7 linked regions of the Homo sapiens genome follow. The protein of the gene in region 4 purifies or fractionates together with the protein of the main gene of each other region. This does not show direct contact. Each region holds a gene or a part of one and is shown on either strand. Other genes may lie near its edges. The genes, in order: BAG2, HDAC6, CCT6A, TUBA1C, TTC5, CCT6B and RCN1.

Region 1 (4,648 bases), on a different chromosome or scaffold from region 4:
AGGAGCCCAAGTAGGAAGTCCAGTGCCAATAAAAGAAAATCAGAAGTGACCTATTCCTATTTCATGTTCTTCACATGAAAATGACAGCACAGGTTAGGCAGATGTCACATGCCTGTAATCCCAGCACTTTGGGAGGCTGAGGCAGGCGGATCACCTGAGGTCAGGAGTTTGAGACCAGCTTGGCCAACATGGTGAAACCCTGTCTTTACTAAAAATATAAAAATTAGCCAGGCGTGGTGGCACGTGCCTGTAATCCCAGCTACTCGGGAGGCTGAGGCAGGAGAATCGCTTCAACCCAGGAGGCAGAGGTTGCAGTGAGCCAAGATCGCGCCATTGCACTCCAGCCTGGGTGACGAGTAAAACTCCATCTCAAAAAAAGAAAAAAGAAAATGACAGCACATTTTTACATTCATGCCTTTTATTGGTCCTACAAGTTTCCTCATTTTCTCTGCATTTTGTCCCTTCTCTTTATGTTGTACCTCAATTCATCTTTTTTTTTTTTTTTTTTTTGGTCTCTACTTCTCTGCTTCCACTCTCTCACCCTCTTCCTCTGCTTTTTTAATCTCTTGCAGTCCAGTAACTTGTGAGGAACTGAAGTTAGGACTGTGAACCTGGGATAAAACACATGGCCTTACTGCTTGGGGCCAGCTTTTCTGAGCTTGCAGGCTTTTTCCTATCTCTCCTAGCCAGGGGCTTGGGGTAGAGAGCATGCTGGAAGAAATCTCTGAGTAAGTGGCTGCTGTAATGAACTGACAGCTGCAGCTGCTCTCTGTGGCTCACATTAAATGCTGTGGCCTGGTGTACGCATACCAAAAGTCAAGCAAAAATTGACCCACACTTATCATAAACTCTTTAAAGGAGTGTAAAAGATGAGCCCCTTCTGTGGAGATGGCTCTCACCGTCACTGATCTGCCTCATGTCCTGGCTATTTTGGATACTGTGGATCATTTCCAGAAGGATTTCTTTCTCTTGCTCAACAGCAGTTGCTGCTTCTCTCAAAGCTTCAACCCTATAGAAATTGGGAAAACAAAACGGTTATTGTATGCAGGATGTTCTTCCTATTAATTTTCTTTATCTCTCATTCAACCCAAATCAAGTTTAAAGATCACCAAACTTTTCAAAAATTCTTCATTTCTGCTTTAAAATTCTTTCATTTTTCTATACACTTGCCTTTCTCCCATTTTCCTCCCAGCTCATAAGGCAATCATTCTTTCGTGTTTATCTAATTAATACTATTTGTTTTTTACAAGATCTGTATTATTTGTATATTTTGAATTTATATCTCATTCTGTTTTTATTTTTTCACTTAGCATCCAGGTTGCTAGATTTTTGTTTGTTTTTTGTTTTTGAGACAGTCTTGCTTTGTCACCCAGGTTGGAGCACAGTGGCACAATCTCACCGCAGCCTCCACCTCCCGCTTTCAAGTGATTCTCGTGCCTCAGCCTCCAGGCCCGGCTAATTTCTGTAGTTTTAGTAGAGACGGGGTTTCACCATGTTGGCCAGGCTGGTCTCAAACTCCTGGGGTTTCACCATGTTGGCCAGGCTGGTCTCAAACTGCTGGCCTCAAGTGATCTGCCCACCGCAGCCTCCCAAAGTGCTGGGATTACAGGTGTGAGCCACCACACCCAGCCCCCTATGTGTACTTCTAATCAGTTGCTGCTAATTGCTGTATAATACTCCATGTGTATACCTACCTGATTTTCCCTCTCCACTCTCCCAGAGATGGACACTTAGGTTGTCTACCAGCTTCTCATTACTACAAATAACACTTCTATGAATACATCTCCCCTTTGGACCTTGGTGAGGATTTCCTTAGGACATATACCAGGACAGAACTGCTAAGACAAAGGGTATGTGTACTCTGCTTTTGACTTAGTATTATGACTATTCTGCAGAACACCTGTACCTATCCACTCTCCACAGCAAAGCACAGGGGTCCCCATATCCCTACCAACATTCTGCATTTTCCAACTTTCTATTTGCTGCCAGTGTGACAGAAATACACTGATATGTCAGTGTTAACTTGTGTTTTCCTAATAATTTCAGACATCTCTTTGTATCCTTGTTAGCCTATTCATAGACTTTTCCTATTTTGCTTTTCTATTTTTAAACAGGAGTTACTGTTCCCTTGTTGATTTGTATACTCAAGAGATTCTTGTTGGTTACAGACATTGCAACCATCTCTCATCCTCTCATATATGAACCACGTCTGGGATGTCTTGCACTAAAGAGAGACTCTTATTTTGATGCGATCAATTTTTTTTTTTTTTTTGCCTTATGGCGTATGCTTTTGAAGTTTTGACCTAAGGTCTTCCCCCACCCTTTGGTCCTATTTTCCTATATTTTCTCTTATTAACTTTATAGTTCTACCTTCCTTATATTTATGTCTTTAATCCACCTAGCATCAACCCCTGCATGCAGTTAGGTAAGAATGTTTTGTTTTTTTCTTCCAAATAGCCATTTTCCCCAACATTATTTACCAAGCAATCCATCTTTCCCCTAGCGAATGTATATTCGCTATTTATCTCTAAAATCTCTATGCCATGCATTAGTGTATTTAACTGTTCTTATACCAGTGCCAAGTTTTGGGTTTTTTTTTTTAATAGCACTAGCCTTGTACTACACTTTAATATTTGATAGAGCAGGTCCCTCAATCTTCTTTAAAGATAACTTAGCTATTTATGGACTTTTACTTCTCCAACTTTTCCATATAAATTCTAGGGTAAGTTTATTGTGTTTCTCAAAAAACAAGAGAAATTAGACATCTTTATAACATCTCTCTGTTTAAAGGCATGATATATGTCTCTTCATTTATTCAGATCTATAGAGTTCCCATGTATTCTTCATAGTAGTCTTCGTGGATATTGCTGCTATTGTGAATTTGTATTTTCTACTTGATTTTTACTGGTTTGAGAAGTGCTGTTTTTGTAGGTTTATCTTGTCACTGGCAACCTTGATTTACATGTATTCATTTTAGTGTTCAGTCTGTTGATTCTGTTGGTTCTTCTAGGTTAATAATCATATCCATATCATCTGCAGTTTTTATTTCTTCCTTCCCAATCCTATTACTTTTTTTTTTTTAAGAAAAGGTCCTTCAGTACTGTATTAAACAGTGGCAATCATGGGGGTATCTTTGTCTTTTCCCAAATTTAAGGGAAAATCTCTGTGGCTTTTTTGTGTAAAGCCCTGATCAAACTATAGAAGCACTACTTTCCCACTTCACTCAATTGCACACACATGCACTCACACTATACACACACATGAATATACCCAGTCACTAAAAAACTAAGCTGTGGAATAAGGGCAAAATAAAGAAATATATATTGTATATTTAACATGTTCTATACTTCCAGGGAACGTTGTTATTATGAATTACAGTAACTAAGATGCCAACTTTTGCAAAATGAAAGTGACAGACCTATTCCCAGTATTTGGATGGTCTTAGAAATACAAGTTCATGAAAGATCTAATCCTAACTGCTGTCTTAAGTGTGCACAGAAAGAACAACTTCACCAATGTTTTAGCACGTTCAATTCCATAAAAGGATCCTCTCCCTGCCCTAAGCACACACATGCCTTTTCCCCTTCGGTTACCCACCTGTTATACCCCAAAATAGTACTGACAGGCTGTAAAATCACAGGATATCTTTATTCTTCAAGATATTAAATATATGTCAAAGTGTGTTTATAAGAGCCAGTAAAAGCAAAGAACTGGGAAGAATCGCATGTGACAAATTTGGCTAGAGAACACAATCAAAATACAAATATTCTACTAACTAATAGTAATGCAAGTATCAGGCCCTATTCCAGGACCATTCAGTATTTACTTAAACATTTTACATTAGCAATCTCTCAGAAAGATAAACTAGGGCCCAGAACATAGGAAAGAGACGGAGTTGGCACTAAATATTTATGCTAAAAGCACAAACCATGACTCCAATATTTAGACAAATGACACAGGTGAATCATGTGATTGATAAATGAGAAGATGCTGAAAGAAGAGATTAATTTTTCAACACCTTTTCGGTTTGTATTCAATTGTAAGATGATAAGAGAGAACAATGCTATTCTGAAAAGGAAGGTTTCATTTATGAGTTACAGCAGTAAGTTCATGTTCTTAACAAAATAGATAAAAAAGACATTCTAGAAAAAATATAATAAGCCTGTCATATGACGAAAATATTTTATCATTAAATGAGACCAAATAGTTAGGTGGAACTGCTAAAGTTTGTGTTTTAGGGACCCTCCCCCACCCCCATCCCACAAGGCTTTTTTTAATACATAATAGAAATTACCAGGGCATTATCCCTGTGAAAACCAGATTTCATCATTTATAGAACTTCTTATATACATTTTTATGTATACCTTTTTCATTTCATGCAAGGGTAAAATGTCATTCTTCAAAATGTAAAGATCTCAGGGTTTATTTGGCAACATGGGCTTTTCATGTCCTATTCCCTCTTCAGGTAGCATTCTTTCTCCCTGACCCTTGTCTACTGGGATCACCTTTTTCAAAACCCAATTGCTTCAGCAGGAATTGTTTCCTTAGCTTCCCCCTTCCTCTCCCTTAAGGCAATTCATGCTCCTTTTGGCCCTGGTACATCCATTTACTCTACAGTCTAAAATATGTCTACCTCATATTTTACATT
Region 2 (4,353 bases), on a different chromosome or scaffold from region 4:
GAACTTGCCTTCATGCCATACAGAAATCCGTCTTCACACTGTCCAGGAACCCCTGGCCTCACATCATACAGTAACCACTGACCTGACCTGCACAAGACGACTGCTGTGAACCCATACAAAAGCCCCTGCCCTGACCTAGTACAGGAACAACTGGACTCTTTCTCCACATGGACTCCTGTATTGACTTTTTTTACACTCTACAGGAATCCCAGTTGCTATTCTTTTTACAGATAAAGAAACTGAGGCTCAGAGTGGTTAGATGACTTGTCCGAGGTCATAACAGCTGAAGAGGCAGCACTGGGGTTTGAACTTGGGCTCTCTGATGGAGTCATCTGTGTTCTTAACTCCCACCGTGTCCTGTCACAAGCAGTACTGGGCACATAGTAAGTGCGACTTTTTGCAAGCCAATTAATTTCTCAGTGACTTATTTTCCTCATCTGTAAAGTGGTGAAAATAACAGCACAGGCTGGGCGCGGTGGCTCACCCCTATAATCCCAGCACTTTGGGAGGCCGAGGCGGGAAGGTTACCTGAGGTCAGGAGTTTGAGGCCAGCCTGGCCAACATGGTGAAACCCCCGTCTCTACTAAAAATACAAAAATTAGCCAGGCGTGGTGGCATGCGCCTGTAGTCCCAGCTACTCGGGAGGCTGAGGCATGAGAATTGCTTGCTCGAGCCTGGGAGATAGAGGCTGCAGTGAGCCGAGATAGCGCCATTGCACTCCAGCCTGGGTGACACGGCGAGACTCTGTCTCAAAAGGAAAAAAAAAAAAAAAAAAAAAAAGAGGCAGGTATGGTAGCTCATGCCTGTAATCCCAACACTTTGGGAGGCTGAGGCAGGTGGATCACGAGGTCAGGAGTTCAACACCAGCCTGGCCAACATGGTGAAACCCCGTCTCTACTAAAAATACAAAAAAATTAGCTGGGTGTGGTGGCAGGCACCTGTAATCCTAGCTACTCAGGAGGCTGAGGCAGAGAACTGCTTGAACCCAGTGAGCCACAATCGCACCACTGCACTCTAGCCTGGGCGACAGAGCAAGACAACGTCTCAAAAAAAAAAAGAAAAAGAAAAAGAAAATAAGAGCACAGAAGGTTGCTGAGTGGGTTAATATCTGAACAACGCATAACAGTAACCAGGGGCCAGGTGCGGTGGCTCATGCCTGTAATTCCAGCACTCTGGGAGGCTAAGGTGGGTGGATTTCTTGAGGCCAGGAGCTCAAGACCAGCCTGACCAACATGGTGAAACCCCATCTCTACTAAAAATACAAAAATTAGCTGGGCGTGGTGGCGGGTGCCTGTAATCCCAGCGACTCAGGAGGCTGAGGTGGGAGGATCACTTGAAGCCGGGAGGTGGAGGCTGCAGTGAGCTGAGATCATGCCACTGCAGACTAGCCTGGGTGACAGAGCGAGACTCTTGTCTCACAAACAACAACAACAACAACAACAACAAAAAACCAGATCCAAAAGATCCAGCATTTACCATATGCCAGGCATTCCTCCATGATTAGCCTGCCTCATAAAGATGAGGAAACTGAGGCACAGGGCGTGGGGATACTGAGTCATTTACAAAGGTCAGTGAATTTCCTTTGTCCCAGGAACTTGTTAGAGGCAGTTCAGGTAGAGTAAAAAGCACAAACCCTGGAGCCAGGCTGCATGGGTTCAAGTCCTGGTTCTGCCATCAGTAAATGTGCCATCTCAGGCTAGTCATCACACCTCTTTGTGCCTCAGTTTCCCTGATCTTCAGAGAGGAAAATGAGGTAAGCTTACCCTACCTCATAAGGCTGCTTTGCCAAGTAACTGAATGAATAAGACACATGAGGTGCTCAGAAGAGTGCTCTGCACATAGTGAGCACTCAATTAAGGCTGTTAATGTTGCTGTTATTCTTATTACTACCCAGTATGTGCCAACAATCCCAGGCAGGGACACTCAAAGGAGATTTCAGGAAACTGTCCTGAGTGATGGTGCCAACATTTCCAAACTACCCTCCCACTGTGGGAAGAGGGACCAAGAGAAAGTTACCTCTAGGATAAGGATAATGCGGCCACTGGCAAGGCCCATCAGCAGGTGGGTGAGGTGGGCATAACCCTCAGGTGACACCTGGCAGCCCCCCAGCGGATCCCCCCGTGCAGCATCAAAGCCAGCTGAGACCAGCACCAGTTCTGGGTTAAACTGAGGCAGGGAGAGAAGAGATGTATAAGCATGAGGGTAGGGGCTTTTGGTAGGCAGTAAGTGATGGCGACCCAGAGACATGGAGAAAAGGACAAATGAAGACATGGAGATGCAAGTCAGAGAGATGGAGACACAGAACCTGGAGACTAGGAGACACAAAAGCAGAGACTGAAAATGAAGAAGGGAAGAAAAGAAATACAGACTCAGAGGTAGAAGAAATAGATGCAGACTTAGAGACATGGAGATGGCAGAAAGGGACAGATGGGGGCCGGGCATGGTGGCTCAGGCCTGTAATCCCAGCACTTTGGGAGGCCGAGGCGGGCAGATCATGAGGTCAGATTGAGACCATCCTGGCTAACACAGTGAAACCCTGTCTCTACTAAAAATACAAAAAATTAGCCAGACGTGGTGGCGGGAGCCTGTAGTCCCAGCTACGCAGGAGGCTGAGGCAGGAGAATGGCATGAACCCAGGAGGCGGAGCTGGCAGTGAGCCGAGATTGCACCACTGCACTCTAGCCTGGGTGACAGAGCAAGACTCCATTTCAAAAAAAAAAAAAAAGGGACAGATGGGGACATGAGACAGACTGACACGTCAAGAGAGTGACATGAAAAACAGAGAGACAGAGACATGTCCTCACACACACATACCCCAGGGTCAAACGTGGGACACACATACACAAGATACAGGGTTTTATATACATAGTGCCAAAGAGAGGTGCTTGCACACTTCCAAAACAGAAGATGGCAACGCAAGAACCACATACAGAGAAGATGGTCACACAGAGCCACACGTACTGCCACACAGACAGTACCATATAGATCAGTACTATATATCTGCACTAGTCATGTACACACACACAGTTTCTCAAAGAGGACAATAACCCACAGCCATCCTGCACAGTCACATACACATGCCATCACCACACAGCCACAATGGCGACATGCACTCTGGTATGTCCACAAGAGCTGGTTATTTGCACATACAGTTGTACACACACAGAAGGCTGTCCTGGCTACCCATGCACAGTCAGATGCACATGCAGATCCAAAGATGCACACCGGCGCCCAGGGTGACAGAGCGGTGCTCACACCCTTTCCCTCCCTCCCAGAGTCAGCCATACACAAGCCACCAGCCTCCTAGCTCACACAGAGGGAAGGCAGCTACCTCCCAGTCAGAGACATACACACAAACAGCCAGGGCAGACAGCCAGACAGTGACTGCTGTCACACACAGCCTTCCACATCCAGAAGGTCCCACACAGGCTGTCACAGAGATGGTTGCATTTAGTGACATACAGTATCACACCCATCACACAGAGAAAAGGTGAGAAATACCTGCCTGCACAGAGTCGCACACGCACATACTCAAGCACTTGTGATGGCACGCACATACAACACAGATCCAGCCAGGACACGGGCCATTGGTGCATAGTCAGAAGGCCCTCACACACACAGCCAAGACAGTCACTCACACAGTGTCACACAGAGAAGGCAGTCATGTACAGCCATCTGTGCACAAATACACAAGGTGATCACAGCCACCAACTGCCCTGGTAGCCTCATTAAACACCCATGCGCTGTCTCATATCATCAGCCACATGGTAGTCACACACACACATGCCAAGGAGGCAGGTCCAGGCTGCCACCTGCACAGGCGTGTCACATACGTCCTGCGATCTATCCTGAGCTGTACCTCGTAGGCAATGGGAAGCACCAGGCGATGCCAGGCAGCTAGGTAGTCAGCATCACCCATGCGGGGCCCGTTCCATGCCACGTTGACGGTGAAGCCTGTGCCCGCAGCCCGGCCGATCTGGCTGCTGGCACCCTCATCCCCCATGGGGAAGAAGGTGCCATGATCATAGCGGTGCAGGGACACATATAGCACACTGCCAGGGAGGGGGTGGGAAGCGGACCATGGCTGGTTAGGGGCTCCAGTACCCCTGAGGTGCTCACCCGCCTCCCTGATCACACTGCGGCCCCTGACTGCAGCCCTTACCTGGGGTCATCCTCAAACATGTGCTGAGTTCCATTACCGTGGTGGACATCCCAATCCACAATCAGGATCCTGGGGAGGAGACAGCACCTCAGTAACCGACGATACTCACGCCCTGGAAGAGGGCTGGGCTAGACCCCTGGGGTCTGCAGGGGCATTTAGTGCTGAGTGGCAGGACCCTGGGTCCTATCAGT
Region 3 (3,500 bases), on a different chromosome or scaffold from region 4:
AGAGTTCTGAGCAAGAACCTAAAGTAAACAAATTTAATTCTTGAGAAAACAGGAACTAATAACTGATAGTAAAAAAAAAAAAAAAAAAAAAAAAAAGAAAAAAGAAAAAGAAAATCTCGGCCTGGTGCAGTGGCTCACGCCTGTAATCCCAGGACTTTGGGAGGCCGTGGAAGGTGGATCACCTGAGGTCAGGAGTTCGAGACCAGCCTGGCCAACATGGTGAAACCCCATCTCTACTAAAAATAAAAAAAAACCTGGCCGGGTGTGGTGGCAGGTGCCTGTAATCCCAGCTACTCGAGAGGCTGAGGCTGCAGTGAGCTGAGATCGCACCATTACACTCCAGCCTGGGAAACAAGAACAAAACTGTCTCAAAAAAAAAAAAAAAAAAAAACTCATTGCATAAAGACAGAACATTTATGTTCCCTTCAGAGAATACCAGACACAAGTTACTGATCAACTCTCTCAACTACCCCAAACCCAGCAGCAATACACCAGTCATAAATTATATATCAAAACTGGTATATAATAGAAAACAATGATATCAGTTTAAAACAAAAGCAAAAAGCAAGTTTGTACTCAAGTATAACCCCTAATACTGCAAATATTAAACTACAGGTTATCTCTTGCCATCTGCAATGTCAGCTATTCAGGCTTCCCAGAGAAACCAAATATATCTGGATGATGAGGAATACCTGTTCTAGAGTCAGAAAGAAAACTGATCAAACTTGCTTATCCAAAATCCACTTTATGAATAAATCCTACATTATCAGAAAGGTTTGATCAGCTGAATCTTTTGGAAGATTGACTGTTAAAAGCATGCACACCTTGGGAATAATGAGCAATGCATCAGCAAATGCTTGGACTCCAAGCTGTGCCCTGCCCTTTACACTGGGCTTATGTTTAATCAGGGCTTCTGCCATTGCCACTTCCACGGCACCAGCACCTGGAACCACACAGCCTGTTGGATGGGGGAAAAGGAAAAATGCTAAGAAAACTGCAGAACTAATTATGAATAACAAAATATACATATGAAAGCCATTAATTTCTTACAAATTTACTATGACAAAATACAAGTGACTAACATACCAAATAGGAGAATGGTTCAACCAGAATGGCTTCACTAGCCACTGGCAGCTTTCAACAGATCAGTATTAGTTCATTTATTTGTATTCACCTTTAATAATGATATGCTATGAAAAACCTTAGCATACCATCAGTCATTCTAAAGGGAAGACTGCTTTTGCATGGTGTCTGGCTGTGTAAACTACTGATAAAAACACAGTATTCGGCCATGCCTTTCAGACCAGCAAAACAATATAAAAGAATTGAAATACAGTGAGGATCTTACCATCATCAATAGCATTTTTGACAGCCCTCAAGCCGTCCCTCACTGCATCTTTGATCTGAGTGAGTGTGTGCTTATTTGGTCCTTTGATCAATAATGTGACAGAACGAGGGTTGTTACATTTCTCAATAAAGGTAAACTTCTCTTCTCCCTATGTGTAGAAAAAATATGATTTTCAAAAACAGGATTTGTGCAGAGTGAAGAGAGAAGAGGGACTTACAGAGAATGACAAGTAGCATATTAATAAGGAACAAACTTGATCACATTAAAGCAAATTATCTCCTTTTGAAAAATCACATAAAAGAAATGTGATTTTCCCCATCAATGGCTTCCCATTACTACACATAAACCTTCAAAATGTATATAAACAAAAATCTGATCCTGAATTTCAATTAATTTTTCTGCTAAAGACTTCATGAACCAGGCACGGTGGCTCATGCCTGTAATCTCAGCACTTTGGGAGGCTGAGGGTGAAGGACAGCCTGAGCCCGGGAGTTTAAGACCAGCCTGGGCAACACAATTATGAACCTGTTTCTACAAAAATTACCAAGAAAAAAAAAAATTAGCCAGTCATGGTAGCACACACGTCTGTGGTCCCACCTGCTCAGAAGCCTGAGGCGGGAGGATCACTTGAACCCAGGAAGATGAGGCTGTAGTGAACTGTGATCACACCACTGCACTCCAGCCCGGGCAGGAGTGAGACCCCACCTCAAACAAACAAACAAAAATAATTCACGAGCTAAAAGGTTCTATTACCTTTAAGAAAAAAATACACTTACCAATGTATACTCATATACAAGTCCTGCATGTCCCAAGCAGTCAGGACTTAGGTCGTCAAAAGAATTCAGGGCTACCCCACCACAAGCAAGAGTCAGCCTGAAATAGCATTTTAAGGGAGATGGATAAGCAACGTTACCAGTGAATTTCAAAGATAAGACCAGTAATTTTTAGGAAGGAATTTTTCAGAATTACACACAAAATTAAATTTTAAAATGTACTTTAAGCCTTTCCATTTGCCATCAACCAGCTAAAAACTAGTCTTTTCTCTTAACCCTCCATTTAAACCACTCTCCCCAAGTTAGCAAATGAAATCTAAAAGGTGGACAAGAGCTCTTTATTAGCCAGGCATGGTGGCTCACACCTGTAATCCCAACACTTTGGGAGGTTGAGGTGGGTGGATCACTTGAGGCCAGGAGTTTGAGACCAGCCTAGCTAACATGGCAAAACCCCATCTCTACTAAAAAAACACAAAGCAATTCAGTGGGCATGGTGGCAGACACCCGTAATCCCAACTACTCGGGAGGCTGAGAATCCTATGAACCCAGGAAGTGGTAGTCGCAATGAACCAAGATCATGCCACTGCACGAAAGAGCAAGACTGTCTCAAAAAATAATAATAAAAAATTTTTAAAAAAAGCTTTTTATTGTGGGGAGCTCTTTGGAAAAAAGTATATTGAATTCAGAAACAAAAAGTAAAATAATGTTTACAAGGGGCAAGGGGGAGGGAGAAATGGGGAGTAACTATTTAATGGGTATACAGTTTCAGTTTGTGATGATGAAAAAAGTCCTAGAGATGGACAGTGCTGACGGGGTGCACAATGTGAATATAGTTAATGCCAATTAACTATACAGTTGAAAAACCCAAAAATAAAGTATAAGGAAAAAGAAATAATCCCAATTCACTTGCAAAATGAGTAAAAGTCAAATTACTCGGATACCTCTCCATATTTCTCCTTTTAGCTCTGCGCAGAGCAACTATGCCTTCTTTTGAAAGAGCATCTAAGGAAAAGGGGTCAATTCCCTGTAACAAAAATAAAAATTAATTTCAACATCTTTCACCTTAAAAGTAAAAAGGATGATACGTACTATTTAGTTTATACATTGAGTTTTCATTCTCACCTTTTGATTAATAACAACAAATCCTTTATCTGAATCGCCACAGACTTTCCTTTTCAGTTCTATTATTTTTTTAACCCTATCTTCAATGAATTTTCTTTCAGCTTTCACGAGTTTTTCTCTCTCTTCTGCACTCTTGTAAAAAAAGCCAGAATTCACTTCTCTATTAAGAAAAAAAAAAGTTACAGAAAGCAGGGAAACATTAAGAAAGCAGCTTCTGAAACTGGATTAGTCCTAAGATTTAACAGTTCACTGAGCTC
Region 4 (4,648 bases):
TGGGGGTCCAAGGTGGGAGGACCATTTGCATTTGAGCCCAGGGGTTCAAGACTGATGATCAGGCCACTGCACTCCAGCCTGGATGACAGAGCAGACCCTGTCTCCAAAAAAAAAAAAAAGCTTTTAAGTGCTAAGTGATTCAGAACAACTTTTCACAATCAAGTCCTTGAGCAGAAAAACCTTTGCTAAGACTATTTTAAGATGAACTATTGCCTTAGGCAGAGGAATCACAAGGCCTGGGCTTGCATACAGGGCTCAAGTTTTGGTAACTGGGAAGGCAGCCTCTGGTTCTCTTGCTGTGGCCACAGAACAGGGCAGTTTCTTAGTTGGAGAGGTCCTAAGGGGCAGGCCCAGGACCACCAGCCTGGTACAGTGGATGTCTTGTAAAGATTTGGCAGCTGCTTTCTGAGGTGGAACAACAGAATAGCCAAAGTTCTAACACCCTGGTACTGGAGTCAGGCTGTGTCAGGATCCGGCTGTACCAGTTCCTTACTGTATGACCACATTCATTTCTCAGTTCTTCCACTGATTAAGTGAGAATAGTAATCACCTTAGGTTGAGAATTAAGTAAGTACTCAGCATAGTGCTTGGCACAGTAAGCACAGTATTGGCCCAGTAAGCCAATATATGACACTAGGTACCAAGAAGCCCATTTATTTTGGGTAAAGTGACACAACCACAATTCCATGAGACCTCAGGTTGTTGGGGATTTCCTCCACCTAACTGGGCTATTTTGGTTAGCAAACTGCTACTTTACGAAGGAATGATTTTGACCTTCCAAATAAAGTATTCTGTTGTAAACTCTTGCTTCTCCAAGTGATGGGCCTCAGATTTGTGAACATTCTCTACTCAGCTCCCTTATAGCCTGTGGGTCCATCAACTACATGAGATCAATGCACAGGGCAGACTCTCGCCTACCAATTACACCAGTTAAGCCTCCTGTGAGCACAGTAATGACAAGGACAAATGCAATTGTTTTGGTAGGCAATAAACCTCACGTTCCAGAACCCTAAATAGCTACTAGGTTTATTTGTCCTAAAGGCAGGTCCCTGATTTTCCAAGTCAGTGCTTATAACTAAAGCTTAGGGTTTTTTTTGTTTGTTTGTTTTTTTGAGATGGAGTCTCACTCTGTCGCCCAGGCTGGAGTGCAGTGGCACGATCTCGGCTCACTGCAAGCTCCGCCTCCCGTGTTCACGCCATTCTCCTGCCTCAGCCTCCCTAGTAGCTAGGACTACAGGCGCCCACCACCACGCCCGGCTAATTTTTTTGTATTTTTAGTAGAGAGGGTTTCACCATGTTAGCCAGGATGGTCTCGATCTCCTGACCTCATGATCCGCCCACCTTGGCCTCCCAGTGCTGGGATTACAGATGTCAGCCACCGTGCCCAGCCTAAAGCTTAGTTTTTAAGCATCGGAAACATCAGTCCAGTTTTGCTGGGAAGACTACGTAAACATCTGAGAAAGTATGAAGCCATGAATGATGAGGCTATTCTATTTTAGAATGGAGCAGTCATGGCTGGGCTTAATACAATGTGATTTTCTTGACAAGTTACTCTGCCCAGACCATCATGCTTGATCTCTGGTTAATTACTTACAAGCTGCCCACATGCCTAAGGAGCAAAGAGTCATCTGATTGCCAGGCTCTTAATTAAAGTGATCCAAACAGCACACTTCATAAGGAAGCTCCCGACTCCACTTTCAGCAGTACTGGAAGTTTCCAGTATTGGCTGTTTCTTGTCAGTGTGACACTGGCTTCTTGTTCTCTGAACTTTCTGTATTGACATGAAGGAACCATCCCAGATTTTTAAAAAATGACTCTGATCAATTAGTTACATGTAGAAGTCAGCTACCTACTCACTCAGTATGACTAAGATGACCTCAAAAGGGGTGTCTCAGCTTGAAGCAAAATAGGCTAAAGAGCACTTACTTCTACCCCATAGTTGTCCCATAAATCCAAGATCATCTGGTTCAGAAATCCAATTAATTTAGTGAACAGATACATTTTAGTTGCAATGCAAATAGTCTCATTTTAGTTGCAAAGAATGATTTCTGTAGTTTGGTCTCAGAACTGCAAAAGAAACTCTCATCCCACTTTATTTAAAGTACTATACTTACCAGCTTGCGAATTCGGTCCAACACGAGGTCAATGATCTCCTTGCCAATGGTGTAGTGCCCTCGGGCATAGTTATTGGCAGCATCTTCCTTGCCTGTGATGAGTTGCTCAGGGTGGAAGAGCTGGCGGTAAGTGCCAGTGCGAACTTCATCTGGAGAACATGATGGGGGAGGAGGAGGAGGGACAAGGAGCGGGGAGGGAGAGTGGGTGAGTGACCAGCGGAGCCCCCCCAGGACAGACCTCCTGTCCCAGCACCCTGGGATCTCACTTGGGTTACTGAGGTCAACTCACCAATGACTGTGGGTTCCAAGTCTACAAACACTGCCCGGGGCACATGCTTGCCAGCACCCGTTTCACTGAAGAAGGTGTTGAAGGAATCATCTCCTCCCCCAATGGTCTTGTCACTTGGCATCTGGCCATCGGGCTGGATGCCGTGTTCCAGGCAGTAGAGCTCCCAGCAGGCATTGCCAATCTGGACACCAGCCTGGCCAACGTGGATGGAGATGCACTCACGCTGTGGGAGGAAGAAAGGAAAATGTCAGGGTATAATACATCAGATGGGACATTTAGGAATGATTCACACCTAATGACTGATTAACCTTCAAGACAGATAACTGGCTGGGCGCAGTGACTCACACCTGTAATCCCAGTACTTTGGGAGGCTGAGGCAGGTGGATCACCTGAGGTCAGGAGTTTGAGATCTGCTTGGCCAACATGGCAAAACTGCATCTCTACTAAAAATACAAAAAAAATTAGCCAGGCATGATGGCGCACACCTGTAGTCCCAGCTACTTGGGAGGCTGAGGGAGGAGAATCACTTGAACTCAGGAGGTGGAGGTTGCAGTGAGCTGAGATCACACCACTGCCCTCCAGCCTGAGTGACAAGATATTCCATCTCAAACAAAAAAAGATAACCATCTTTCAGCAGGCCACTCCTGCTCAGGGACTATAATTTCAAAAGCAAAAATCTTTGAAGACCTAATTCAGCAAAAGTGCCTTGGAAAACCAAAGATGTGTTCATGAACTACTCGGCAAGACCAGACAGTTGCTTTGTAGCCACAGTAGATATGATTCCTTAAACTAAGGCAAAATTCCCCTTTCCAGCTCTGATTCATTCTCTGAATGATTGTGTAACTACTGAGCTCATTCTGGTCCCGCTTTAATCCTATTCTTTAGGAGACAAAAGCTTCTCTCTCCCTCCTTTAAAACCAGCTTAAACCAGCAAACTATAGCCATGACTCATGAAGAAAATGCTGGATAAGCAGCAGTTAGCTGTATTTTAAAAACTGTGGTCAGAGGCAGCTTTTTAACCAAGTGGAAGAATCTAATCTATAGGAAGAACGTTTTTCCTTCACCGTCAAAACATCTCCGGAAGAGGGAAGACCATAATAATAAAGGCTAGAAATGTTACCAAGACTTTACTGATAGGTTAAGAAATTAGTTGTTTCTGGCTCACACCTGTAATCCCAGCACTTTGGGAGGCCAAGGTGAGCAGATCACTTGAGGTCAGGAGTTTGAAATCAGCCTGGCCAACATGGTGAAACTGTCTCTATTAAAAATACAAAAAAAAAAAAAATTATGGTAGAGCACAGTGGCTCATGCCTGTAATCCCAGGACTTTGGGAGACCGAGGTGGGTGGATCATCTGAGGTCAGGAGTTCAAGAACAGCCTGGCCAATATGCTGAAACCCCATCTCTACTAAAAATACAAGAATTAGCCAGGCATGGTGGTGCGCGCCTGTAGTCCCAGCTACTCGGAAGACTGAGGCATGAGAATCACTTGAACCCAAACCCAGGAGGTGGCGGTTGCAGAGATCTCGCCACTGCACTCCAGCCTGGGCAACAGAGGCAAGACTCTGTGTCTGTGTCTGTGTGTGTGTGTCTCTCTCTCATAGATATATATTTATGAGGTGGACCAAGTTAATTTAGAAAGGCCAGAGGGGCCAAAGCAGAATATGGTTAGAAATTACCAAACCCACACCTGCTAAGTAAAATAAGGGAATAAACATAGAATCTGTACACACAGACTTAACAGGAAAACAAAAAGGGTGTTTGGCATTTCATCATAAGTCAGATTAGCCACTTTGGAGACTGGCAGAGCACTAAGTTCTCAAAGGACCTGGTCTCATAAGCCAAGAGATAATAAAAACCCTAATTACTCACAACCTTTGACCTCCTTCCCACCTACACTCCCCATGAAACAATCAAGGTCTCTTAACCACATCAGCAAGCTCAGTATCACCTGGGTCTACTCACCCAGCTCCAGGGGTGTGGGAGAACAGGAGTAGTTTGTTCTAATTAGCCCATGACTATTTACCATTGCATCATGTTTACCTTTTTGAGAAAAAGTCTCGCTCTGTCGCCCAGGCTGGAGTGCAGTGGAAACTCCGCCTTCCAGGTTCAAGCGATTTTCCTGCCTCAGCCTCCCAAGTAGCTGGGATTACAGGTGCCCACCACCATGCCTGCCTTATTTTCGTATTTTTAGTAGAGATGGGGTTTCACCATGTTGGCCAGGCTGGTCTTGAACTCCTGACCTC
Region 5 (4,373 bases), on a different chromosome or scaffold from region 4:
AATCTGACAAAGGGCTAATATCCAGAATCTACAATGAACTCAAACAAATTTACAAGAAAAAAAAAAACAACCCCATCAAAAAGTGGGCAAAGGATATGAACAGACACTTCTCAAAGGAAGACATTTATGCAGCCAAAAAACACATGAAAAAATGCCCATCATCACTGGCCATCAGAGAATGCAAATCAAAACCACAATGAGATGCCATCTCACACCAGTTAGAATGGCGATCATTAAAAAGTCAGGAAACAACAGGTGCTGGAGAGGATGTGGAGAAATAGGAACATGTTTACACTGTTGGTGGGACTGTAAACTAGTTCAACCACTGTGGAAGTCAGTGTGGCGATTCCTCAGGGATCTAGAACTAGAAATACCATTTGACCCAGCCATCCCATTACTGGGTATATACCCAAAGGATTATAAATCATGCTGCTATAAAGACACATGCACACGTATGTTTATTGCAGCACTGTTCGCAATAGCAAAGACTTGGAACCAACCCAAATGTCCAACAATGATAGACTGGATTAAGAAAATGTGGCACATATACACCATGGAATACTATGCAGCCATAAAAATGATGAGTTCATGTCCTTTGTAGGGACATGGATGAAGCTGGAAACCATCATTCTCAGCAAACTATCGCAAGGACAAAAAAACCAAACACCACATTTTCTCACTCATAGGTGGGAATTGAACAATGAGAACGCATGGACACAGGAAGGGGAATACCACACTCGGGGAACTGTTGTGGGGTGGGGGGAGGGGGGAGGGATAGCATTAGGAGATATACCTAATGCTAAATGATGAGTTAATGGGTGCAGCACACCAACATGGCACATGTATACATATGTAACAAACCTGCACGTTGTGCACATGTACCCTAAAACTTAAAGTATAATAATAATAAAAAAAAGAGAGAGCATTAAGAAAATGAAAAAGCAAGCTGCGATTTGGATAAATATATTTGAAAAACATAATTTATAATGGATTAGTATCCAGAACATGTAAGGAATCAATAAGAAGACAACCCAATAAAAATTGGACAAAAGAAAACAGAGATTTCATAGAAAAAGAAACAGGAATGGACAAAGAAATGTAATTTATGCCTACTATGTGATATTTTATAATCATCTGGTTGGTAAAAATTAAAAAGCTAGACAATTTCAAAAAAAGAAAAAGACAGACTGGGCTTTAAAGATCAGTAGGGAAAGGATTGATTCTTTAATAAAAGGTGCTGGGCTATTTACTCATTATGAAAAAAATTATATCCGTACATAACATAAAATAAAGTCATACTGTAAGAAAAGGACAAAATAACTTCATAAAGCAGTAGAGGGAAAATGTCCTTATGACTTTAGGAGAGCTAAGAACCTCTTAAAACACAAAAAGCATTATCATAAAAGATGGATAAATTCAATGACATTGAAATTAAGAACTTCTGTTCAGCAAAAGACCCAATAGAATAAAAAAAAAAACAGGATAAAACTGTATGTAGACAAACGATTAGTACAGGGAATATATAAATCAATTTGACATCCAATACAGCAGTGTGCAAAGACTCGAATAGGCATTTTACCGAGAGAAAATATTAGTGGCTTCTAAATATATGAAAAGATGCTCAAGCTCATTAATAATCAGAAATGCAAATTAAGGCCACAAGGAAATAATACTCAAATCTCCTGTATTTGCAATACCTAAAAGATAATACCAAGCACAGAAGAGGATGGGGAGCATTGGGGTGACTCATCTATTGATAGTAGAGACATAAACTAATATAAGCACTTTGGAAATGTTTAGTGCTTCTCAAAAAAGTTGAACATGTATATACTCTATGATCCAGCAATTCCATTCTATGTCAATACTCTTAAACAGTGGTTCTCAAATTTTACTGTGCATCAGAGTCACCTGGAGGGTTTGCGAAACACAGATTGCTGGGCTCCTCCCACATAGTTTTGAATTCAGTAAGTCTGGGTAGGGGGCTTGAGAATTTGCATTTCAAAGAAGTTCCAAGGGATGCTGATGCTGCTGGTCTGGGAACCACTCTTCAAGAGCCATTGCTGTAAAAGAAACTTTTGCACTTACATATCAGGACATATACAAGAATATTAATAATGTAGTGCTTTGGTAGTAAAAAAAGAAAAACTGGAAACCCAAATATCCTTTAACAACAGGATGAATAAATTATGGTATAATCATACAATGAGATTTATATAGCTGTGAAGACAAATGAGATCATGGAGAGGTATGCAAGGGCTTCCAAGTTATCAATGATGTTCTAGTTTTTAAGGCAGGTGGATATTTTATGGGTATTCTAGTTATTCCTGAAACCGTATGTACAAATTTTGCATACTTACTTGTTTGTACGCACTGCTTCTCTGTGGCTACCACCTACTGGCCATTTTTCTACTCTCTAGCCCTACACAGAACATGTCAACTCATCTCAGAATTTGAGTAAAAGGGGAACAGTATTTGGGTCCCACATCTCTACTGCCTCAAATGTTTACACATACTACTACCCCCATCTTCCCTAGTTGCTTTCAGCCAATTCTCAAGTTATTTTTATACCCCACAAGCTCCTAATCACTCTTCTATGACTCTAGGCCTCAAAATGACACCCAAAACTAATTTAAGACTCCATATGTGGTATAACAGACAGTACTTCTAATAAAAACTGTCTCTTGCTACCATAGGTTTTTTTGGTGCAGTCCATGAAGAGTGTTCTTGCAAACTATATCAGACTGGTTACTCATACTGACTTTAGCTTATCTACTAAGATTCTTAGTAATATTCATATATGATGTTGAAGCTATACCTGAGAATGTAAGCCTTTTTGGACCAAAAGAATGGACTGAAAATTTTATCTTATTAGACTCAGCCTTTATGACTTCTTAGATAGAGACAGATAGATAGATAGATAGATAGACAGATAGATAGATAAAACTTCTCTCATCAATGCATTTCTACCATCCATTCTCTGAGGAGGCCTCTGCACTCTTTATAAATTTAATGAGTCATCAATGATATTCAAGGCACTGATCAAAAACTGAACAGGACTGGACCAAGAACAAAGATCTGAGCCATTTCACTAGAAGACTTCTCAATTCATCTGTATACATTAATGTATTACAGCCATTCAGTTGTTGTTGCTGTTTGAGACGGAGTCTCGCTCTGTCGCCCATGCTGGAGTGCAGTGGCATGATATCGGCTCACTGCAACCTCCACTTCCCAGGTTCAAGCAATTCTCTGCCTCAGCCTCCCCAGTAGCTGTGATTACAGGTGCCTGCCACCACGCCCAGCTAATTTTTGTATTTTTAGTAGAGACGGAGTTTCACCATCTTGGCCAGGCTGATCTTGAACTCCTGACCTCGTGATCCACCCGCCTTGGACTCCCAAAGTGGTGGGATTACAGGCTGAGCCACCGTGCCAGGCCAATTCAATTGGTTATTAATCCTCACTCACATTTCTCCATTTTACCACAAGGATATTAAGATAAACTGTTATAAAACATGTCACTAGACTCTAAAGAAACTGAGGATTTATCTAACTCTCTCTGGTCCTTCAGCCTAGTAACACTATTAGAACAGTATTGCTCTGTCATCTTGGACCATAGTGAAGACCACCCCTAGGGAATGACAGAATGGGAAAATGGAAGAAAGCTGGTCTCTAGCAACTTTGTGGAGTTGCCATTCCTGCCTGGGGCTGTCTATTGTCGGAATTCTTTTAACTGGGAGAGAAATAAACTGCTTTGTATAAAGAAAAAAATGGGGGTATTACTCCAATAAATTGAAGTGATCCTAAAACAAAGAATACAGGCCTAGGGAGAATAAAGCAGGCCAAACTACGTGGTGTTTTTTTTTTTTTCCAAACAAATTTAATTCTGTTCCAGCCCCAAAGAAGAGGAAGGACCTAAAGTTCAAAAATAAAAATAAAAATTGCTAAAAATAAAAGCCATTACAAAATTAAGCCCCCTCCTTTAGCAATAAATACTGAACTGATATATACATATGAGGCTTAGGAAGGAGGCAACAACAGGAACCTTGGGGACTCTGTCCCATGGCAAGATCCCAAGACTTCTACCAATTCCATGCTCTTTGCTTAAAACATAGAGAGCAGTGGAAGAGACAGGAGAGATATGCCAGAAGAGTATGTGGCCCTGTAGAGAGCTGGAACATGATGAGGACAGAGGAGAGAGAAGAGATACGAAGTGTAATACAGGCAGGGAAAGAGAAAGTCTTCATTTAAAACATTCCTCCCATCCCTGCTGAATCACTGGATGTGGCTGGACCGGCTGTCCAGAGCCTTGTCTCCTCTCCTCCACTCCCTGTTGAGCATGCAAGTCAAAGGTCATTCACACTGTGGTCGCGATGCCA
Region 6 (4,248 bases), on a different chromosome or scaffold from region 4:
GGAGGCCAAGGCAGGCAGATCACCGAAAGTCAGGAGATTGAGATCTGCCTAGTCAACATAGTGAAACCCCTTCTCAACTAAAAATACAAAAATTAGTCAGGCGTGGTGGTGTGCACCTGTAATCTCAGCTACTAAGGAGGATAAGGCAGGAGAGTCACTTGAGCCTGGGAGGCAAAGGTTGCAATGAGCCGAGATCATGACTGCACTCCAGCCTGGGTGAAGAGTGAGACTCCATCTCAAAAAAAAAAAAAAAAAAAAAAAGAAGAAGAAGAAGTCTGGATACTGCCTTAGAAAGATGCTGACAGCATATTAAGTGGAAAAAACAGGCTATAAAATTATAGGGTTAAAGGAACCTTCTCCTATATGCACAAACAGGCCAAAGTTCCATTAATGCACCTGCCATATTTTAGTCTCTTATCAACTACCATCCACGGAAAGAAGTTAACCACAAGAACTCTAATAAAAATAAAAAGCATAATAGATTAATTCTAGAGTTTCAAACAAGAAAGATATTGCTATAATATCTATACTGAACAGTTGTATTATAAGCCAAAAATAATTATTTCCCACCATTGGTGTCAATAATTCTCTTTCCAGATGAGACCTGTTCTATCTCACCATCTAGACAGAGAGCTACCAGAGCTAGCACAGTGGCATAAATTGTTGATCATACATACAAAAACAGCCAGATAAAATATAATAAATGATATACAAAATAAATTGAGTCAGATATTATAAACAATGCAACCCAAAGCTACACGCCATATTTATAAGAGGAAAGAGTGGCAGCAAAAAGTCACTGAAAGAATTTTGAGAGAAAATGAAACATTCTGTCCTACTATATTTATACCCTCTGATAAATTGGAAATTTACTTGGGTGTACTAAAACCTCTATTTTGTTAATTAAAACTTGTCAAAAGGTCTAAGTATCATAAAGATCCTATGCTATAAAAACTGCAATAGCATATAACAAAGAGTGGGGAGTTAGGACTCTTGGGGAAATATTTAAATATTATTCCTTTACTGTAAAAGTATTTATTGTGTTCTTTATACCTTGATGAAATATTTTTGAGACTATTAAGACCCAAAAGACATAAACTGCATTTATTGTGTAGAAATTCAGAATGGCTCAGGCTACACAATAGTAGTCAGATGTAAAGTGTACTAAATTTCATCTTCTAGAAGGGTTGATTTTGAATTCAATCATCATTTGAGAGAAGACATCCCAGCTCGCATAATTTCATCAACCAGGAGAATGTTGGTGGCAATCACTGTGCTAAGGAAAAAGATGAGAGGGTGAGTAAAGCCTACTAACCCACTCTTAGCTTTTTTCCCCAGCAATCTTTACCTATGTAGGGTACTTTGTTCTTTAATGATGTTAGTATGATGTTTTATGAGACAAGGCTATTATAAATACAAATACAAATGTCACCTTTTTTTTTTTTCCCAAGATGGAGTTTCACTCTTGTTGCCCAGGCTGAAGTGCAATGGCAAGACCTCAGCTTACTGCAACTTCTGCCTCCCAGGTTCAAGCAATTCTCCCGCCTCAGCCTCCCGAGTAGCTGGGATAACAGGCACCCACCAACACGCCTGGCTAATTTTTGTATTTTTAGTAGAGACAGGGTTTCACCATGTTTGCCAGGCTGGTCTCGAACTCCTGACCTTAGGTGATTCACCCGCCTCGGCCTCCCAAAGTGCTGGGATTACGGGTGTGAGCCACCGCACTGGCCCAAATGTCACCCTTTGTATTATAATTTAAACTCCTTTGCTGATAAAGTGCATTCCTGATTTATATTTCAGCAAAATTGAGCTTATTTTTACAATATCATTTGATTTTCTCCATCATGCATGTGCTATTATTTCAGTAAATTTCCCCTTTTCTTTCCCCCTCAAATAGTAAGGTTAATTTTTCTTAGAACTTAACACTGCTAGATCTAAAATATAAAAGGGACTATGGACTATAAAATGACAGAAGCTAGTTCTAATAACTGAATACCACACCTTTCATACACTTGACAATTTTTCCACTGTACAGGGACAAAAATAATAGAAAAAATTTCATCTTAATATTATCAATTATAACTCTACAGGTCTTTCACTTTATGTTCATATGAACTTACCAAGAGTGAAGAAGTTGTTTTTTTACACAATAATTATCCCAAACTCCTGCATCTGCTGCTACCATTGGCTCACCTGAAAAGTAAAAACAATTTTCATACCAAAATCTTAGTATTTGCTATTAATATTAATTGATATCTTCTAAAAATATTTAATACATTACCAAAACTACTTTTGTCAAGGTCATCAATGACCTCCATATTGTTAAATCCAATGGTTGATTCTCAGACCTCATCTACCAGTATTTAACACAGTTGATCACATTCTGCCGCCTACTCTATGTTATCTTCCAGGATACCACACTCTTCTGGTTTTCTTTCTTTTGCATTAGTGGCTCCTTTTCTGATTACTTTGCTGCTTCTTCCTCTTCCTCCCTGACCTCTTAACGTTGGAGTACCCAAAAGTTCAGTCCCAGCCTCTTTTCTCTCTACCCTTAATCCCTAGGTGATCTCATCCAGACTTTTAGATTTAAACCATACACATCTGATGACTCTCAAGGTTTTTTGGGTGTTTTTGTTTTTTGTTTTCTTTCTTTTTTTTTTTTTTTTTGGTGTTTTTTGTTTTTGTTTTTGAGACAGAGATCTTGCTCTGTCACTCAGGCTGGAGTGCAGTGGTGCCATCTCGGCTCCCTGCAACCTCCACCTCCTGGGTTCAAGCAATTCTCCTGACTCAGCCTCCCAAGTAGCTGGGATTATAGGGGCCTGCCACCATCCCCGGCTAATTTTTGCATTTTTAGTAGAGATGGGGTTTCACCATGTTGGCCAGGCTGGTCTTGAACCCTTGACCTTTAGTGATTCACCTACCTTGGCCTCCCAGAGTGCTGGGATTACAGGCGTGAGCCACTGCGCCTGGCCTGACTCTCAGGTTTTAATCTCCAACCCAGACCTCTTCCTTGAACTCCAGACCCATATATCCAACTTTTTTAATTAAAAGATTACAGATGCTTCAACTTTGACTCTGCCAAAACTGAATGCTGATGTCCTCTCACCCACAACCTGCTCCAGCCAGTATTCTCCACCACAGTTGATTGCAACTCCAACCTTCTACTTGTTCAGTTGACTTCTCTACAAAGTGGAGAGTGGCCAGAGTGATTCTCTTAAACATAATTAGGCCACATGCCTGGCCAACATGGTGAAACCCTGTCTCTACTAAAAATACAAAAATTAGCCGGGCGTGGCAGCAGACACCTATATTCCCAGCTACTCCGGAGGCTGAGGCAGGAGAATTGCTTGAACCTGGGAGGCAGAGGTTGCAGTGAGCCAAGATCGTGCCACTGCACTCCACAGCATGGGTGATAGAACGAGACTGTCTCATAAATTAATTAATTAGGCCATGTCACACCTCTGCTCAAAATTGCTCCCTGCTCCTCTAAAGTAAAAGCCAAAGTCCTGAGACTGGTCCAAATGCCCCTGCATGATCTGACCTTCTGTCACCTCTCTCACCTCCTTCCTCAGAAACATCAGACACTGGCTTTTCCACTGGCTGTTCTCTTTCCCTAGAACACTTAACCCCAGTTGCCTACATGGCTAATTTCCTCACTTCCTTCCACTTTTTTTCAACAGACATCTAGATGATGCCTACCCTGACCAACCCTTTAAGCTGTCATTCTCTCTCCACCCTCCTGTACTAGCATTCATGATCATTATTATAGCACTCTTTTTTCCATATAATTCATTACTTTTTCTAAAATGCTGAAGGAGTTTATTTATTAAAGTTATTATTTACTGCCTACCTTCTCCCACTACAACATAAGCTCCCAGGGGCAGATATTTTTGTCTGTTTTGTTCTGTGTGAAGCCCAAGAGGAAAACAAGCACTCAATAACTATTTCTTAAATGAATGAACATTTTTTAAGAAGCTCAAAAATAAACTAAAGGCATCCAAAATTTAAATATTAAAGTTACCCAAACCTCTACTCCTTTACCATAAGATCTGGGTAACTAAAGAATAACCTCTTTATTAAGCAGCTAATTTTCCTTCACTTTCTTACCTGTATTCAAATCTACGCCCACAAGTTGTTTTGACTCGACATGCTCAGCCTGAACTTTTACTAATGTTTCCTGTGGGTCATAACCAGCATTCTGAGCAAGAACCTTTAGGAATAAAAATAATAATATATATTATATATATA
Region 7 (4,648 bases), on a different chromosome or scaffold from region 4:
GAAGTGAGAGGTGAGAATGGAGGGGAAACCAAGGGCAGAGCAGGAAGGACCTTGGTGAGATGGACATGAGATGTTATCCTGTACATTGTCAAAATGTCATAATCCCCAAAACTCATTGGGAAAGTCAGGCTGGCAGGAGGGCAGTACACAGAGAACATAATCAAGGCACAGACTAGACCAGTGGCAGGGAGAGGAGGTGAATGCCAAAGGGGCTTGGTCTCTCCGGATTCCAGGAGGGGATGAATCTAGACACCAGTGGGAGGCAGAACTGGCAGCTCTTGCTCTTGACTCAATGAGGGGGAGAAGAGAGAGGTAGGAATCAAGGGGACATCCGGGTCTCTGGCCTTAGCCACCAGATGGGTGATGGATGCACCATTCACTTGTAGGTTAAATGTGGGGTAGAGGCGGGGTAGGAGGTGCTGGAAATTATGGGTCCTGTTTGGGATGGGGCTGAGTGTGAGAAGCTGCCCCTCTGTCCAAAGCTTCTGTTTCAGTGGTCCCCTCCAAGATTGGGCTGAGGAGGAATGAGTGTGGCTGGATCTAGGCAACTTTGTCACCATCACCTGTCAGTCCTGAAAATGTGACAGCTCTAAGGCCCCTAAAGACACCTGGACCAGAGGTTGCAAAGTGGGAACCCGTAGGCTGCATGCATTCATAAATATGCGACACAGTGTAAATTACTTGCCCACGTTTAAAGTTTGAATGGTTTCACATACAGACCCCCATATCTGGCTTCTCTTGACACCTTTATTCCCATGTGTCAGTCATCGTCTGCAGCAGAGTCGGCCAGCCCTATTTGGCGGCTAGCAGGGTACCTCCAAGTGGCCATAGGTCCCATCAAAAGGTTTTGCTCATTCTGTTACCTGTTGGTGTTGAGAACAAATGATGATGGAGTTGGTCTGGGTTTGCTCCTTGCATCAACACCTTAACTTCATTCATTTATTCATGCAACAAACACCCGAATGGCTACTGTGTAGCAGCTACCATCAGCCACTGATCTAGATTATTGTCTTTAGTGAGGAAAAGCATGCATTCTCTCCTTTATTCCTCACAACATTCCTTGTGAAGTAGGTGTTCAGTTTACAGATGGGGAAACTCAGAGAGTCAAGACACTTGCCCAAGATCACGCAGATAATGGGGACCAGAGGCAGGACGGGGATCCAGGTGTTCTGATGAAAGTGCTAGGCTTCATCTCCATCCTAGCTGCCTTTCCCAGGATCTCCCTTGACATTGTTAAAGAGAAGGTTAAGATCTTATTTATTCTTACAACAAATATTTATTGAGTCCCTAATATTTGTCAGGCTGAGCTATGTCCTAGATGTTTATTTGGCATAGATTAGATGCTGTCCTTTCCACAAAAGAGGATTGTAGAGTCTGATGTCATTACCCTGAGATTATGTTTCCCAGTTGGCGTTGGGTAACCCACTGGCATGTCTCCACTGTGTCCCCAGGATCAGAGCAGTGCTTGGCACATAACTGGGCTCAACACTGCACAATGTTAAAAGAATTCTGCTGTGTCTGGCTATGATTTCCTGGGGGAAGAAGCCTGAAGACACTTGAAGTTTCATGTTTTAGTCTTTTTTTTTTTTTTTAAAGACAGGGTCTTGATTTGTTGCCCAGGCTTGTTTACAGTGGTACAGTCATAGCTCACACTGCAGCCTCGACCTCCTGGGCTCAGGCAATCCTCCCACCTCAGCCTCCTGAGTAGCTGGAGCTACAGGCATGCATCACCATTCCTGGCTAATTTTTTTATTTTGAGACGGAGTCTTGCCCTGTCGCCCAGGCTGGAGTGCAGTGGCGTGATCTCGGCTCACTGCAAGCTCAGCTTCCCAGGTTCACGCCATTCTCCTGCTTCAGCCTCCCGAGTAGCTGGGACTACAGGCACCCGCCACCACACCTGGCTAATTTTTTTGTATTTTTAGTAGAGACGGGGTTTCACCGTGTTAGCCAGGATGGTCTGGATCTCCTGACCTCATGATCCACCTGCCTCGGCCTCCCAAAGTTCTGGGACCACAGGCGTGAGCCACCATGCCCGGCCATTCCTGGCTAATTTTTAAATTTTTTGTAGAGTCAGGATCTCACTATGTTGCCCAGGCTACTCTCAAACTCTTGGCCTCCTACCTCAGTCCTCCCACCTCAGCCTCCTGAAGCACTGGGATCACAGATCCAGCCTATCTTTTAGGATTGAGACCTGTTAAACTTGCAAATGAAGGGGTACTTTCAAGCTGTTGGTGATGTTTACACCTTCCTGAGAAAGAGGAGCTTGGGTTCTTGGGTTCAGGTAGGAGGTGGAGACATTGATTATTCACTCCTCCCCTTCTCGTGTACACCCTCCCCCACCTAAAAAAAAGTTATAGGAGATTTTCTCTGTCAAACTATCAAACTGATGAATTTGTTTCCCATTTTTTATTAATTAAAGATTAATTGCCACTCAGAATGTCTGTTGACAAGAAAGTTTTACCACTGAAGCTGTTAGAATTCCAGCCCAAAACAAAGAAAGAAATCTAGAGTTAGCCTGTATGACCTCCTCCCAGATAAATGGACTACAAGGGTGAAACTTTTTTAAACACTGGGGATAGCTTGGAGGTGTTTTTGAAGTTCCCCACTGGGATGCTGTCCTGGTTTGGGACCATCTGGTCTAGAGATGACAAAAGTGGGTTCCCAGCCTGAAGTTTGCTCTGGGCTAGCATTTAGGGTACCTCAGTGGAGTTCAGTGGGAAATTTGTGAAACCTAGGCCAGCTGTGGAGCTGGTATAGGAGTCTTTACCCTAAGAGCAGAGGGTTTAAGGTTCCTAGAGCGGATCAGCTGGTCAAGTTTTGTGAATAGATTCTATGATGTCAAGGCTCCTTCAGCCCTGACATTTGTGCTGTGTCCACCATCTGGTGTCTTCTTGCTTTACGTTTCAAGTCTTTGTATCCATGGTGGTGGGATTTAAAAAAAAAAATCACTTATCTTTTGATTTACATACAGTTTCCACTTTTTGCCTTGGACCTAAGCCAGAAGACATGAGTTCTCACCCCAGTTTTACCAAATACTGGCTGTGTAATCTTAGAAGTTATTCCATTTCTCTGGGCCTCAGTTTCCGTTACTCCAAAATGAGGGTGCTGGACTACAGCAGGGAAGATTAATAGGTTTCATCTTACAGATCAGCTCTGATCCGTTGATAATGGCCATCACCAGAGCACAGTGCTGAGAATTCTGAGAGCACCTCTAGGTTTATCAGGACAGAGGGGCACGATCCATTAGCAGTGTCTGCCATCAGCACTGGTTGGGGGAAAGCACATCAACCTTGGAAGGATAAACTTGAAGATTCCTTCCAGCCTCCTTGGATCATTGATTCTGTTGTAGTTGTATGTGCATTTTGGATTGTGCAGGTGTTTGATCTTTTGCTGGACCAGCATCACACAAGCCTTGATAATATAACAGCCTTGTGCCTGTGTGTGGGTTTCTTTTTTTTTTTTTTTGTACTGCAGGAAGATTGTTGATCGAATCGACAATGATGGGGATGGCTTTGTCACTACTGAGGAGCTGAAAACCTGGATCAAACGGGTGCAGAAAAGATACATCTTTGATAATGTCGCCAAAGTCTGGAAGGATTATGATAGGGACAAGGATGATAAAATTTCCTGGGAAGAATACAAACAAGCCACCTATGGTTACTACCTAGGTAAGAGGTGCTGCAGGAGCGATGACACAGTGGGGGCCCAGATCACAAGCTTTTTGTAGACTCTCTCTTCTCTTATCATATCCACTCCCTTCAGGGAGATGTCACAGCCTCCTAAGTAGAACCTGCTTGTATAACACCCTCCTCTGTAAACTCAGAATGTACTGAGTTGCTTACACTGAATGAAGTTACAGGTGGGAGGGAAGGGCTGTGAGGGCTAATAAAAAAAATCCCTTAGATTGAGACCCCATCTCAACTTCGTCTCAGATGCACACACGGAGAAGAAAGCAGAAAGGAAGTGTGTCTGTGGTATATTTTCAAAATGCTGCCTAATTCTGGATAGCAAGGATTGAGTGGGCCGGAGCAGTCAGGGAAGGCTTCCTGGTGTGGGTGGTTTGGAAACTGGAGCCTTGGAGAATGGATTTATATTTGGAGAAGGTGGGTCAACTGGAGGGGCAAAGATGCAGCAATGCATGCAGTAATGGGAAGGGTTTAGATCCAAGACAAACAAGATCGGGAGAAGGAAGGAGAAATGAGATTACAGAGGCACGGGGTGCAGACCTGCTGGGTGCATGGTGAGGTTGGCAAAGAAACAGGCCCAAGGAGAACCAAAGATGCACTCACGCGGCCAGAATCGGGGAGATCTTGAAAGCCAGGCACGGCGTTGAGACAAGATGTTTTGGGTACCAAAGAGCCTCTGTATGTTCCAGATCTAAGAATGAGATGATGAAAGTAGAGTTCTGCAAAGAGAAGTATGGCAGTAATATAGTCTAAAGCCTGCGCTCTTAACCACTTGCAGTAATTCCCCTAATATGCCATGAGGCCTAGATTATGGGGTGGCTTGAAGGGACTGATATTAGAGGCATTCTGACATAGAATGTTTTAAAGAACTCAGTAGGTCGGGACCTTTTTTCCCTATATGTACCATTTGAGCATGCAGGATGAGTGATCTGGCAGGAAACGCCTTTCTTGACCGCACGGTT

Evidence for each region.
Region 1: the proteins of TUBA1C (region 4) and BAG2 purify together in Homo sapiens (affinity purification with mass spectrometry; 2 studies listed by BioGRID and IntAct, with this or other methods). This does not show direct contact.
Region 2: the proteins of TUBA1C (region 4) and HDAC6 purify together in Homo sapiens (affinity purification with western blotting; 2 studies listed by BioGRID, with this or other methods). This does not show direct contact.
Region 3: the proteins of TUBA1C (region 4) and CCT6A purify together in Homo sapiens (affinity purification with mass spectrometry; 3 studies listed by BioGRID and IntAct, with this or other methods). This does not show direct contact.
Region 5: the proteins of TUBA1C (region 4) and TTC5 purify together in Homo sapiens (affinity purification with mass spectrometry; 2 studies listed by BioGRID and IntAct, with this or other methods). This does not show direct contact.
Region 6: the proteins of TUBA1C (region 4) and CCT6B purify together in Homo sapiens (affinity purification with mass spectrometry; 2 studies listed by BioGRID and IntAct, with this or other methods). This does not show direct contact.
Region 7: the proteins of TUBA1C (region 4) and RCN1 purify together in Homo sapiens (affinity purification with mass spectrometry; one large-scale study listed by BioGRID and IntAct). This does not show direct contact.

What each region holds. Positions count from the first base shown.
Region 1 is NC_000006.12:57,178,393-57,183,040, reverse strand, and holds part of BAG2 (BAG family molecular chaperone regulator 2), read right to left. Parts: intron 1,010-4,648; coding exon 900-1,009; intron 1-899. UniProt on the Homo sapiens protein: Co-chaperone for HSP70 and HSC70 chaperone proteins. Acts as a nucleotide-exchange factor (NEF) promoting the release of ADP from the HSP70 and HSC70 proteins thereby triggering client/substrate protein release.
Region 2 is NC_000023.11:48,817,919-48,822,271, reverse strand, and holds part of HDAC6 (protein deacetylase HDAC6), read right to left. Parts: intron 4,232-4,353; coding exon 4,163-4,231; intron 4,053-4,162; coding exon 3,860-4,052; intron 2,167-3,859; coding exon 2,017-2,166; intron 88-2,016; exon of another isoform or gene 9-87; intron 1-8.
Region 3 is NC_000007.14:56,058,265-56,061,764, reverse strand, and holds part of CCT6A (T-complex protein 1 subunit zeta), read right to left. Parts: intron 3,404-3,500; coding exon 3,244-3,403; intron 3,146-3,243; coding exon 3,063-3,145; intron 2,222-3,062; coding exon 2,125-2,221; intron 1,497-2,124; coding exon 1,349-1,496; intron 1,296-1,348; exon of another isoform or gene 1,163-1,295; intron 959-1,162; coding exon 825-958; intron 19-824; coding exon 1-18. UniProt on the Homo sapiens protein: Component of the chaperonin-containing T-complex (TRiC), a molecular chaperone complex that assists the folding of actin, tubulin and other proteins upon ATP hydrolysis.
Region 4 is NC_000012.12:49,267,443-49,272,090, reverse strand, and holds part of TUBA1C (tubulin alpha-1C chain), read right to left. Parts: intron 2,627-4,648; coding exon 2,404-2,626; intron 2,264-2,403; coding exon 2,115-2,263; intron 1-2,114. UniProt on the Homo sapiens protein: Tubulin is the major constituent of microtubules, a cylinder consisting of laterally associated linear protofilaments composed of alpha- and beta-tubulin heterodimers.
Region 5 is NC_000014.9:20,285,280-20,289,652, forward strand, and holds the end of TTC5 (tetratricopeptide repeat protein 5), read right to left. Parts: coding exon 4,348-4,373; 3' UTR 948-4,347; downstream 1-947. UniProt on the Homo sapiens protein: Cofactor involved in the regulation of various cellular mechanisms such as actin regulation, autophagy, chromatin regulation and DNA repair.
Region 6 is NC_000017.11:34,926,842-34,931,089, forward strand, and holds the end of CCT6B (T-complex protein 1 subunit zeta-2), read right to left. Parts: intron 4,211-4,248; coding exon 4,108-4,210; intron 2,194-4,107; coding exon 2,121-2,193; intron 1,277-2,120; coding exon 1,207-1,276; 3' UTR 1,020-1,206; downstream 1-1,019. UniProt on the Homo sapiens protein: Component of the chaperonin-containing T-complex (TRiC), a molecular chaperone complex that assists the folding of proteins upon ATP hydrolysis.
Region 7 is NC_000011.10:32,093,670-32,098,317, forward strand, and holds part of RCN1 (reticulocalbin-1 precursor), read left to right. Parts: intron 1-3,474; coding exon 3,475-3,668; intron 3,669-4,648. UniProt on the Homo sapiens protein: May regulate calcium-dependent activities in the endoplasmic reticulum lumen or post-ER compartment.